2 separate regions of the Homo sapiens genome follow, and region 1 is linked to region 2. The links come from fine-mapping of genetic effects on gene expression. A gene starts in region 2. The other region holds a variant in brackets. All regions are shown on one strand. Distances are from middle to middle.

What was found. PIP is the estimated chance that this variant, and not a neighbour inherited with it, causes the effect. A credible set is the group of variants that fine-mapping cannot tell apart.
Region 1: its variant is the best candidate, but not a certain one, in a credible set for the expression of CDC42BPA in putamen (GTEx, PIP 0.85).

Annotation. Positions count from the first base shown.
Region 1 is chr1:227,024,314-227,029,701 of GRCh38, forward strand. It overlaps CDC42BPA (CDC42 binding protein kinase alpha), which reads right to left. Exons shown (of 37, transcript NM_001394014.1): 30 at 4,344-4,937; 31 at 1,742-1,839. Among named protein-coding and RNA genes, the nearest start is that of COQ8A, 87 kb to the left of the region's middle. The variant A/G (reference allele first, on the strand shown) is at 2,552.
Region 2 is chr1:227,315,624-227,321,011 of GRCh38, forward strand. CDC42BPA (CDC42 binding protein kinase alpha) reads right to left here and starts at 2,869. Exons shown (of 37, transcript NM_001394014.1): 1 at 1,382-2,869. The coding sequence starts at 1,559. It overlaps LOC124904531 (a long non-coding RNA gene), which reads left to right and starts at 2,969. Exons shown (of 2, transcript XR_007066911.1): 1 at 2,969-3,375; 2 at 3,491-4,438.

The DNA of each region.
Region 1 (5,388 bases), 290 kb before region 2:
CAATGGAAAGTACTAGGATGTTGATAAGAATTCCTTTATGCTGTTGATGGGAGTATTGGTTGGTACAATTACTTTGGAAAATAATATGACACTATCTCATAAAGCTGACTGAACTCCCTATGTCCCATCAATTCTGCTCCTAGGTATATGACTCAAACTCCTGAAAACTATTCCAAAAAACAGATGCAGCAACATCACAATTGCAAAAAGCTAGTAAATAATTCAATGTCCCCCAGTCAGGGAACAGACAGTAGTGCTAAGTTCACCCAACAGAATATTTTATAGTACTGAAAGCAATAAACTATATGGTATATATAACAACATGAACGAATGAGACTCAGTGGATGAGTAAAGAAAGCAAGATAGAAAATGACTATATATTATAACATTTTCATAAAGCTCAAAACCAAGCAAAACTGAAAGATATATTATTTAGGGATACTTAAATATGCAAAAATTCTGTATTTTAAGAAAAGCAAAGGAATGATAAGCACAACATGACGCAGTTTGCAGTTATATGAGTGATGTTCTGATTCTCAGGTTAGGAGGTAGGTTCATGAGTGATCAGTTTATTATTATCTTTCACAAAGGCCATATATCTATTCTTTCACATACATTGCAAAAATTACATGATAAAAATCAAATAGGGCTGAGTGCAGTGGATCATGCCTGTAATTCCAGCACCGTGGGAGGCCGAGGCGGGCAGATCACTTGAGGTAAGAAGTTCGAGGCCAGCCTGGCCAACATGGTGAAACCCTGTCTCTACTAAAAACACAAAAATTAGCAGGGCATGGTGGTGTACACCTGTAGTCCCAGCTACTCTGGAGGCAGAGGTGGGAGAATTGCTTGAACCCAGGAGATGGAGGCTGCAGTGAGCTGATATCATGTCACTGCACTCCAGGTTGGATGACAGAGCGAGACCCTGTCTCAAAAACAAAAACAAAACAAAAAAATCCACAGAAAAGTAATAATGACCAATCCAAATTTACAAACTAGAGTATATTTTAGTTGCTTTAGATAATCTGGCAGTATTTACAAGAGCTTTTTAAACTGCTATTATGATTTTAAATGGGTGCTAATTTTGAAATATGATCTAAGCTACTTTCACATATTCTCTAAACCCTGTCCCCCAACTAATCATACATGCTATATATATATCACATCTATCTATATGAAACTATTGCTCTTCATTTTTGCAAACTAGCAGTTCTATAATTGTAAAAATTCTCTTTGTTATGGAAACAGGATTATATATTAAGAAAAATATTATGTTTTATTAGGAATATATGAAATATTTATTTTTCAATTATGGACACTTAAACAGTTTTGGTTCTAAGTTTAATTACTTTTCTAGCCTTTTAAATCTGTCCTCACAGGATTAAACACTGGGTGAATGACAGTTATAATTCATAATAATCATGTACTCTCTCAGAGCTCCTTAATCCAAAAGTAGAAGATAACACTGACATTTTAAGTTGTAGGATATATTCTAGTTGTTCATAATAATAACAATCATACTTTGCATAAACCAAATATAGTAAAATTAGTATGGTTTTAGTGAGGCATAAGGAAATTAACCAACTTTATTTCTGTTTCTATTTTCTCACTCTTAGCTAAGTCCCAAACTGCCAATTACACATTCCAGAAAATGTTGAATTAATAAAAAAAAAATTACTATGTAGTAATTTAGTGTTTTCACTTATACTCAGTTGGCTTAGCCCACATTTTAATGTTAAATTACCTTTTTGAGAGGAAGAGTCTGAATCCATTCCATGGAGTTCACATCAAAGATATCAACTGCATTTTCACTGTACACCGAGAGATATGGTGCATTGTAACCTGGGAGAAGGGAAGGGGGGGCAGCTTGCGGATTACTTTTAACTATTAAACCCCAAATATTTTGAAAGGTCTACACTAAATAACTGTAGAGTGGAATCCCACCCAAATCCTATGGGGCTATCATATAGTAGCCAAATCAAAACATTTTTGAAGCAAACAGAACATATATCGTAAATGAGGAACTGGTATACCATGATTCAGATTATATAGCCGTTATAATATAGACGGATTCTGTAAACACCAGGGGTATACTATTTCTTTGCCCAACATGAGTTCTATAAAGGAATTTCATTATATTTGAACTATTTGATTCCTAAAAGTAGTTAAGTTATTGACAGTGAATCAAACTTAGAAAGCAGAGAAATCTTCAGGTAAGTGTTCTAGTCCCTGTTAAGAATGTATAATAAAGCACTGTAGCACAGTTACATGAATAGGGTAGATGCTCAATATACACTTGTTGAAAGAATGAATATCAACAAATGGTGACACAAGCAAAGAAAGATTCAATGGTTTACTTAAACTAAGGTTACAAAGGGAATTATTGAAAGAGCTACACAAAAAAGTCAGACATTCCAACTCTGACTCTACATTAGAATAATCATAATTATTATCTGATTCAGTTACAAGACAGCATTTATTCCACTGATGAGTATGAGAGTGTGTGTGGGTTTGTGTTTTTAGAGATAAGGTCTCACTGTATTGCCTAGGCTGG[A/G]GTGCAATGGCATGATCATAGCTCAAGTGATCCTCCTACCTCAGCCTCTTGGGTAGTTGGGACAACAGGCATGCAACCACTACACCTGGCTAATTAAAGAAAATTTTTTATAGAGACAGGTTCTCGCTATGTTGCCCAAGTTGGCCTCGAACTTCTGGCCTCAAGCGATCCTCCTGCCTCAGCCTCCTGAAGTGCTGGGATTACAGGTGTAAGCCACTGTGCCCACCTAAGACCATATTTTTCAGAAGAAACAAAATATTAAAAATAGTTAATTCCCAAGATCTGCAGTTGAAAAGCTGGAAAGACAAAAAACAACAACAATAACAACAAAAAATAGTTAAGTCGTTCATCCCAGGATGGAGGGTGGGGGAAAAAAAAGTCTGGATGGGTAGAACTAGAGGTATTTTTCTTTTGTCCTGTTCACGCAGACTTTCTGATTTTTCTGTAATGAGCATGGGTTGCCCTCCCAAACTTTCTCGCACTGAACCTTTAAACTTGACTAGACCCATACCCATCACTCCTCCTCCTACCTTGTTACAAATGAAGAGGTTTTACTCCTCCTGCCCCCAAGTAATTCTTGCACCTGTCTTCTGAATTTTGTCCTCTCTGGCCTTCTTGGCGGTCTTACTCTATTTCCCATATAGACAACTTTTCCATGTAGTTCCCTAGGGTTTTTTTTCCCTTCAGCATTTTAACATGCTCAAGTATTTTTCATTAAAAACAAAACAGTTTGGATGAAATACTTCTATGTGCTTCTACAGAACTCTCTACTTCTGCTATCATAGCACTTACACTCTACTGCAACTACTTGCTTTATCACGAATCTTTTCCACTGCACCCCATGCTCTGTGGGGTTAAGACTGTATCTATTTTACTCATTGCTGTTAACTCATATTCAATGGCACATATTCAATAATAATTGGATTATTTTCAATAACCAAAGTATTCTATAATTAAAAGTATTCAATGAGTCTGGGTGTGGTGAGTCAAGCCTATAATCTCAGTGCTTTGGGAAGCCAAGTTGGGAGGATTGCTTGAGGACAAGAATTTGAGACCAGCCTGAACAACTAATGAGACCATCTCTACAAAAACAAAAAATAAAAACATAAGCTGGGTGTGGTGGTGTGCACCTGCTGTCCCAGCTACTCGGGAGGCTGAAGTAGGAGGACTGCTTCAGTGTAAGAGTTGGAGGCTGCAGTGGGCTGTGACGATACCACTGTACTCTATCCTGGGTGACAGAGCAAGACTCCATCTCTCAAAAAAAAAAAAAAGTATTCAATAATTTATTATGTCTTAATATTTCTTGAAGGGGTAAAATAAGCAATTATAAATATCTACCCATCTAGATAAAAGTGGAAAACTGAAAAAACACCTCTTATAGATGTTACATTATACCTTTACATACCTGATTAAATAACTCACTTAGTAACTACTTCTCCAGAATAAGTTCTGTGAAACACTGATGCTTACAAGCACCATATTTTGGGGGACCATGAGATAACAATTCTGGGTTATTTCAAAATATGATGTGGGGTAAAAAATCCATCTTAGTGAAATATTCCACAGAAAGATGTTTTGTTTAAATTACGTGCATGCTAATGCTGGCCCTGTTTGCCCAGGCCTAACTACATATGGTTTTTACATCAACAACATAATCAATACTGAGGAAAAGCATTAAGAATGACTTTTTTAAAAAACTGTTATCAACAATGACAACATTTGGGAGACGAAGTAGAAGGGAAAAGGAAGAAGAGATATAAAGATAAGACAGCCGTAAGAAAGAGAATCTTACAACAAGAGGAAGGATTTGCTGGCCACATCAATTCCTGTTGTCTAGATCTTCGGCCCTGGCAGTCAGTGTATATCCCAATGCTGTTAAAACACAGCAGATATTCTTTACTGGAGATCTCAACTGCGCAGATAGCATCCATTGGTTGATGTGCAATAAATGATAGTGTATGGTCATTTGAATGGAGCATACTGTATGGATTTCCTTCTCCATTCAAGGGGTATCTTAGAAATCCTGACTGGAATCCCACACAGAGTTGTTCACTGAAGATTGCCATCCACTGGACATTATATGGGACTTGAATTTCTTTAAATTTTCTGTGACGGGTCTTGCTCTGAAATAGTTCATAACAGAGGACCTGCCTTTTCATAGCCACACACAGGCATGTGAGAGCTCCATGGCGCACCTTTCCAGAAGTTACGGTTTGACACCCTTTAGTTTCTGACAGCTTGTAAAAATCGGTCTCTCGCCCATCCAATGCTGACATAGGAAAAAGTCGTACATGACGATTTCGTCCTGAGATCACAGCAACAAGCTGATCATTTGGAATGAGTTCAATCTGATGAATCTTCTTATTGTCACCAACTCTAATAATTTCTAAACACAGAAAGAATAATAAATCAAAATATAGTTTTATTGATTAATCATATCCCAATTATACTCAAAAGGATGTAAGTCAACTTACAGATGCACATACGGAAGAATAAGACATCAGAAGTCACAGGAAAAAAAGATTATCCAACCCATCATAAGATAATTTAACTCACCTATAGTACGTATTAAATTTGAGTCCTGAGATTTCTGGCAGCCAAGGCAAACCCCAAAGGATTCTTGTGTAAAAGTATGCCAAATCTTCAAGGAAACTTTTCTACTGGCACTAAATTCTAGGGAACGTCACCATAGGATTCCCATTTTTAAAAACAGAGAACTTATTTTTCAGAAGTTTTTATATGGCTAACAATGCATTGTTTTCCCATGATCTAAGTTGACATAAAGATAAAACTTAGAATACTGTATTTATGAATACCAAGTTATATTGGTTTCTCTT
Region 2 (5,388 bases):
GGGATGTAAAACTACATATGCTTTACAAAATACTTTATTCAACAAATAAAAGACGTATACTCACAAAACCAGTACCAAAGCCAAAATTGTCTCACTCTTAAGTGAGAAGTTACTTGAAAGATGGTTTAGATTTCTTACATTCCCAGGATGAGTCTGGCAGTCTGTTTTGAAAAGTTATTCTATTCACATTTACATATTTTTTTAAACCTTATGACATCACATTGCTAGAAACCTTCTTATACTGGCAAATTGAATAATTAAAGTTATTACGTGTAGACATTCTTGTATCAGTGGTTTACCTGAGAAACTAACTTTGAATAAATTTCAAATCCAAAAAAAAAAAAAAAAAAAGACACAATCAGCACTTGACTTTTACTTCAGGAAAATAAAGTTTTACTTGGGAACAGATATTTTAGCATAAGAACTTAGCATAAGAACAAACTAAAATGATTAGTATTCCAAAGGTACAAAATCATATTTGGCCAAAATCCTTCAAAAGCCAACGTACCACTACTACAGACAGATCTGGGTGACGATGCGTGCTTATTGCAACAGTGAACTTCTGGACCTTAGAATGTGCCCTGTATGTAACAGCAGACGCTGAAGAACTTGAGCCAAGCCTTCAAGCTTGAAGGTCATGGAGCGTTTGCTCACATCATTGATCTATTCCACTACAGTAGGTCTTCTAAATCACATCTATATTTAGAAGAATGAAGCCAAAAACCTAACCAGTTTAGATTTAAATTAACTTTCGAGTAAAATCTAACTCTCAAGTGGAAGCTGCCCCCAAACATTCTCTAACTACTATCACAAGATTTTTAAACTATGTCATTTAATCTTACAAACATAATTTTTGGAAAGTCCATGTTTAGCAGTTTCCTTTCCTTGTACTATGTAGAGATGAAATAAAACCCACTGATCACCACCTTCAGCTTTCTGTTGACCTAAGGCAAACACAGATATTTTAATATCTCCTCCTATTTTGAGAATAATTTCCATAGTCTGAATGTTTCCACCAATAAATACCTTTCAAATGAAGGACTATTATAGTGCCATGTATTAGGCAACTGTAACCAATAATCCACTTTTGCCCATCACAGAATTGATTTAAAATCTCTTACTGTTGACCTAAAAACATAAGTTCTTCATAGCCAAGTTCCACATTAGCTAGGCCTTAAATCAAGGCAACAATTGAGCAGCACAATTCTACTCCTGGGAAAATATTTACCAAAAACTAGCGGAAAATCTTGAATAACTAGTGTCTGTTTTTTTATTGTATTTTTTCTTTGAACGGAGTAGAGTTTACTCATAACTCTCTATACCAATTAAATCATAATGACCAGCTAAAGATTAACAGTTTCTTTAAAAATTACAAACTTACCCCATTCTAGGTATTCGAGAATGTTCTTCTCTCTTCTCAATGGAGAATTATTGCATTCATCATAAAGGCAGATGAGTATATCCAGTAATGTCTCCACACTGAAGCACTGCCCATTGGTCTGAGCGGGCCCGTCCAAAATAAACTGCTCCAACTGCCTCAAACGCACTTCTCCAGACATGTTTGCTTCGATTTCTGCTGGTTTTCCTTTAAATTATTATGATGACTTTTACTATTATCTGAACCTAAATTTTAAAAGGTATGGTTTTAAAAATAAACCACTTGTTATTCAAACAACTGTCATGCAATGCTGGTGCTGAATTAAACATCCAACACACCAGTAACCTCACTTAACTGAAGCGTCTTCAATTTCACCCATATACATATATTTTGAGGGTAAATTACCATAAAATATATACTTAATGCATTTTTAAAAGAATACAATTAAGTCGTATATTTAAATAAAATAATAATTAAAAGTACAACGAACTAGAGAGTCAACACTTCTTTAAAAAAAAAAAAAAAAACTCTTCTCCTTCATTCAAAATTCAACTCGTGCAACGTAATCCTGAAACGAATCCGGTTGCATCATTAATGAATAAAGTCCGATTTGCATCAGCAATTCACTTCCCGGGAAGAAGAAAAACAGAAAAGGGAGGAAAAAAACAGAATGCATAGAAGGGGGAGGGAAAACCAAAAATGTTGCTGCAAATCCTCCCAACCACCACTTGGATAATGCATCAGCGGCAATTTCTCCAGCGGGAAAGGGAGGGGGCGAGGTCCCTGAAGCAGCCCCTCGGCTCGGAGCACGCCAAGTCTTGCCCGGAGGCGGCTTTTCGTTTCTCCTCCCGAGGTCCTTCTTTCTTTAAGGCTTTGCAGTCAGTCCTATTTTCAACGGATTCCGGTGAAAACTCTTCATTTTCCTCCCGGCTTCACCCTAGGGCCTGACCGGCGGCGCGGCCGGGGGTGGAAGGCGGGCTGCGGGCGGCACTGGCACCGGGCTCCGGAGAAGCGGCTACTTGGCCGCCCGAGCCCACTCCATGTCGGTGGTCGCTCGTGGGCCGAGCCGCGCCGCGCCGCGCCGGGCAGAGAGCCCGGTCTCCCCGACACCCGCACCGGGCCGCCGCGCCGGAGGCTCCCGACGCCCCAGGCGGGGGGGTGCTTCTCTGAATTCAAAGGACACAAGCAGCAGCAGCTGCGGCGGCGGCGCGGGCGGCTCTGGCAGCTACTTCTCCCCCTTCTTCACACCCCTGGGCTAAGGGCATCTTTCCACAGCGAGGAGGGAGGCGGCCCGGCGCAGGAGGAGGGGTCGCTTCCGCGGCTGAGGAGACTAGAGGCTGCGGCAGCCCGGCTCCCAACCACTCCCTTCCTCTCCCTTCCAGCCCTCCCCCGCCTTCCCTCTCCTCTCGCGCTCGCGCCCTGGGCTCAGCGAGGCTCCTCCAGTCCCGCCGCACAGAGGCGGAGGCTTGCGGACGAGTCTGGATCCAATATGGCGGCCTGGCCCCCCGGCCCCGGCACACGCGCGCGCACACGCCCTCCACTCCCCGCCCCCGCCCTGCCCGAGCCTCAGCCCCAGCCGGCGGCCAAGCCGGGCGGGGTCCGGCCGGCGCGCCCAGCGGAGGCCCCCAAGGGGGCGCGGGCTCGGGGCCCGAGTGGCTGCGCCAGCCCGAGGGGAGGGGTGTGGACTGCCTAGGCGGCGAGGCTGCGGCTGCCGCAGCGTGGAATGCGGAGCTGCGGGAGGGCTGAGGGAGGCCCGGGCGGCGGTGGCGGAGCATATGGAGGCGGGATGACCGGGCCGCGCCGGGAGCTGCGGCGGGACTGGGCGCAGGCTGGGAACTGCGCCACCGCCGCGCCGTGGCCCCGGCTCCCCGAGGCTTCTGGTGCAGATCGCGAAGGGGGGCTCCTGCTCGTCCTCGGAGACATCACCTGTCTGGCGCGTTTGTTAAGGGCGCCCAGAAGCAGAGGGCTTTAGGCTTCCGACAGAGCTGGAGGAGACGGTGCCTTTCAGCCCCTTACCTGCTCCCCACCGGCCCCCCAGATTCGGTTCGCGCACACTCCAGAGTAATCGTTTCTTAGGTGTCTAATTACAGCACTTCGTGTGTCATTTCCCAGGACAAAAACAATGACAGACTTGTCCGAGCTACCATCGAAGTCTTGGGTCTGCACGCAAAGGATGGAATCCCCCATCTCCATTCCCAAAAGTTTCCCTACGGGAGCCTGGTGTTGTCTCCTCCGGAACTGTCCTCGCGGCTGCCTGTTTTTCCCTAGCCATGGTTACTGCCTGCGGGGGATTCAGCCTGTGAAGGCAGTCAAGGCAGTTCACCACTGTCATCAAACCTACACCCCTGTGTGCATGCGCACACACACTTGTAACCCAGTGGCACAATGCAGGAATTAGGGAAGCAAAGGCAAATCGCTGAATAGCTAGGGCACCTGATCCCTGTAGGGCCCTTCCAGGTTTTTGTGAATCTCGGTTTTAGGAGAGCTCCCTTTATAAAATTCTCATGGAAGATGCCACATTTAAATTAACACCACAAAACTAGGTCATTGCAGTTCTGTTACTTTCTCTCAAAATTGCCATCTCCTTTATGGTCGTTCTCTAAAATACAATTATTTTATATTCCTTCCCCACACCTGTGAGGCGGTTGTGTTTCTATGTTCATGTCCACAATTGCATCTTACATCTTGATAATATGGAAGCTGAGGAAGAATTAGAAATGAGGGCCTAGACGTAAAATGAAGGCTAACAGAAGTCGATTCAAGTTGTGATTCATGAAATAGTGTGAATCTTTTATGAAATCTACAACGTCTACACTTGCCTGGCTTAAGAACAGCATTATTTTCAATGCGGTCTTGACATGAATGATACTTAGATTCAAACAAAAGGTCAGTCATTTCCAGCCATGACATCTTTATATGGGTGTGTGTTGTCTAATTCTAAAAGTAGTAGAAAAGTTTAATCCTAACACAGATAATAAGCAATATTTTGGTGTTTATTATTCAAGTCTTTTTCCTATGCACTTTAACAAAAATGATACATAATAAAAGAGTTTTATAGCCTCTTGCTTGCAATTAGCAATATATTATGGACATTTTTTCAGTTCAACAAACATTCTTCAACAACATGGATTTTAATGGTGAAGCCAATTTTAACAGTTTCATTTGACCATAAGATGCGGTAGCAAAGAAGGAAGCAATTTCTTCTGCTTTTTCAAGTACGGTTAACTAAAGAAATGGCTCCAAGATACCTGCTTTTCCAACTTACAAATAACTAGAAAGAAGTTTAAAGGAGAACCTAAAACATGTTAGGTCTCACTAAATGCTAATTGACAATGGAAGTATATGAGATGTAGATACTTTTTTTTTTTTTAACAAAAGAGTCAAGCTGTCAGTTCTTTACCTATTCTATTAGCGCTTGGGTACCACCCACAGTCCAGGGTATTGATGGTTGCTAAATAACCCTTTCCACATTATTTAGAAAGTAGAGAGCAGAATTTATTTTTATTTTAAAAAACACACACACAAAGAGAAGGAAGGAGCTTGAACCCAATCAATTTTGCTTGAATAATTCAAGCTCAGAGACTTAATAATTAACTAGACACTAAACACATTGTGCGGGTGTTATTTTAAATGTTCCGGTTGAAGTGTGAACATGCTTGTTAATGAAACCGGTCTTAAGCCAAAGAAAGGCACAGCCCAGCAGCTGTACAGTGCTTGAAGTGTTCCTGCAAAACAAGAGTGCCACAGGCTGCCTCGCAGGGTATTCTTTGGGGAAAAATAGTCTGGAGGAGGTCTTCTTTGTGAAATTCTGCTTGGGGGCCTGGAGATTAGATGTATACCACTGCAAACACCCAATTTGTTTGAAATAATCAGAGAATGTTTTATGAAGATGCTGGGAATTAATCTGACCATTCAGAAAAGAAAGAGGACAGGAGAAGACAAGAAGGTAGGAAGGTGGAAAGAAGAAGGCAGGACAGAAATCATTAAGCCTAGTCCCCAATACAAGCTCT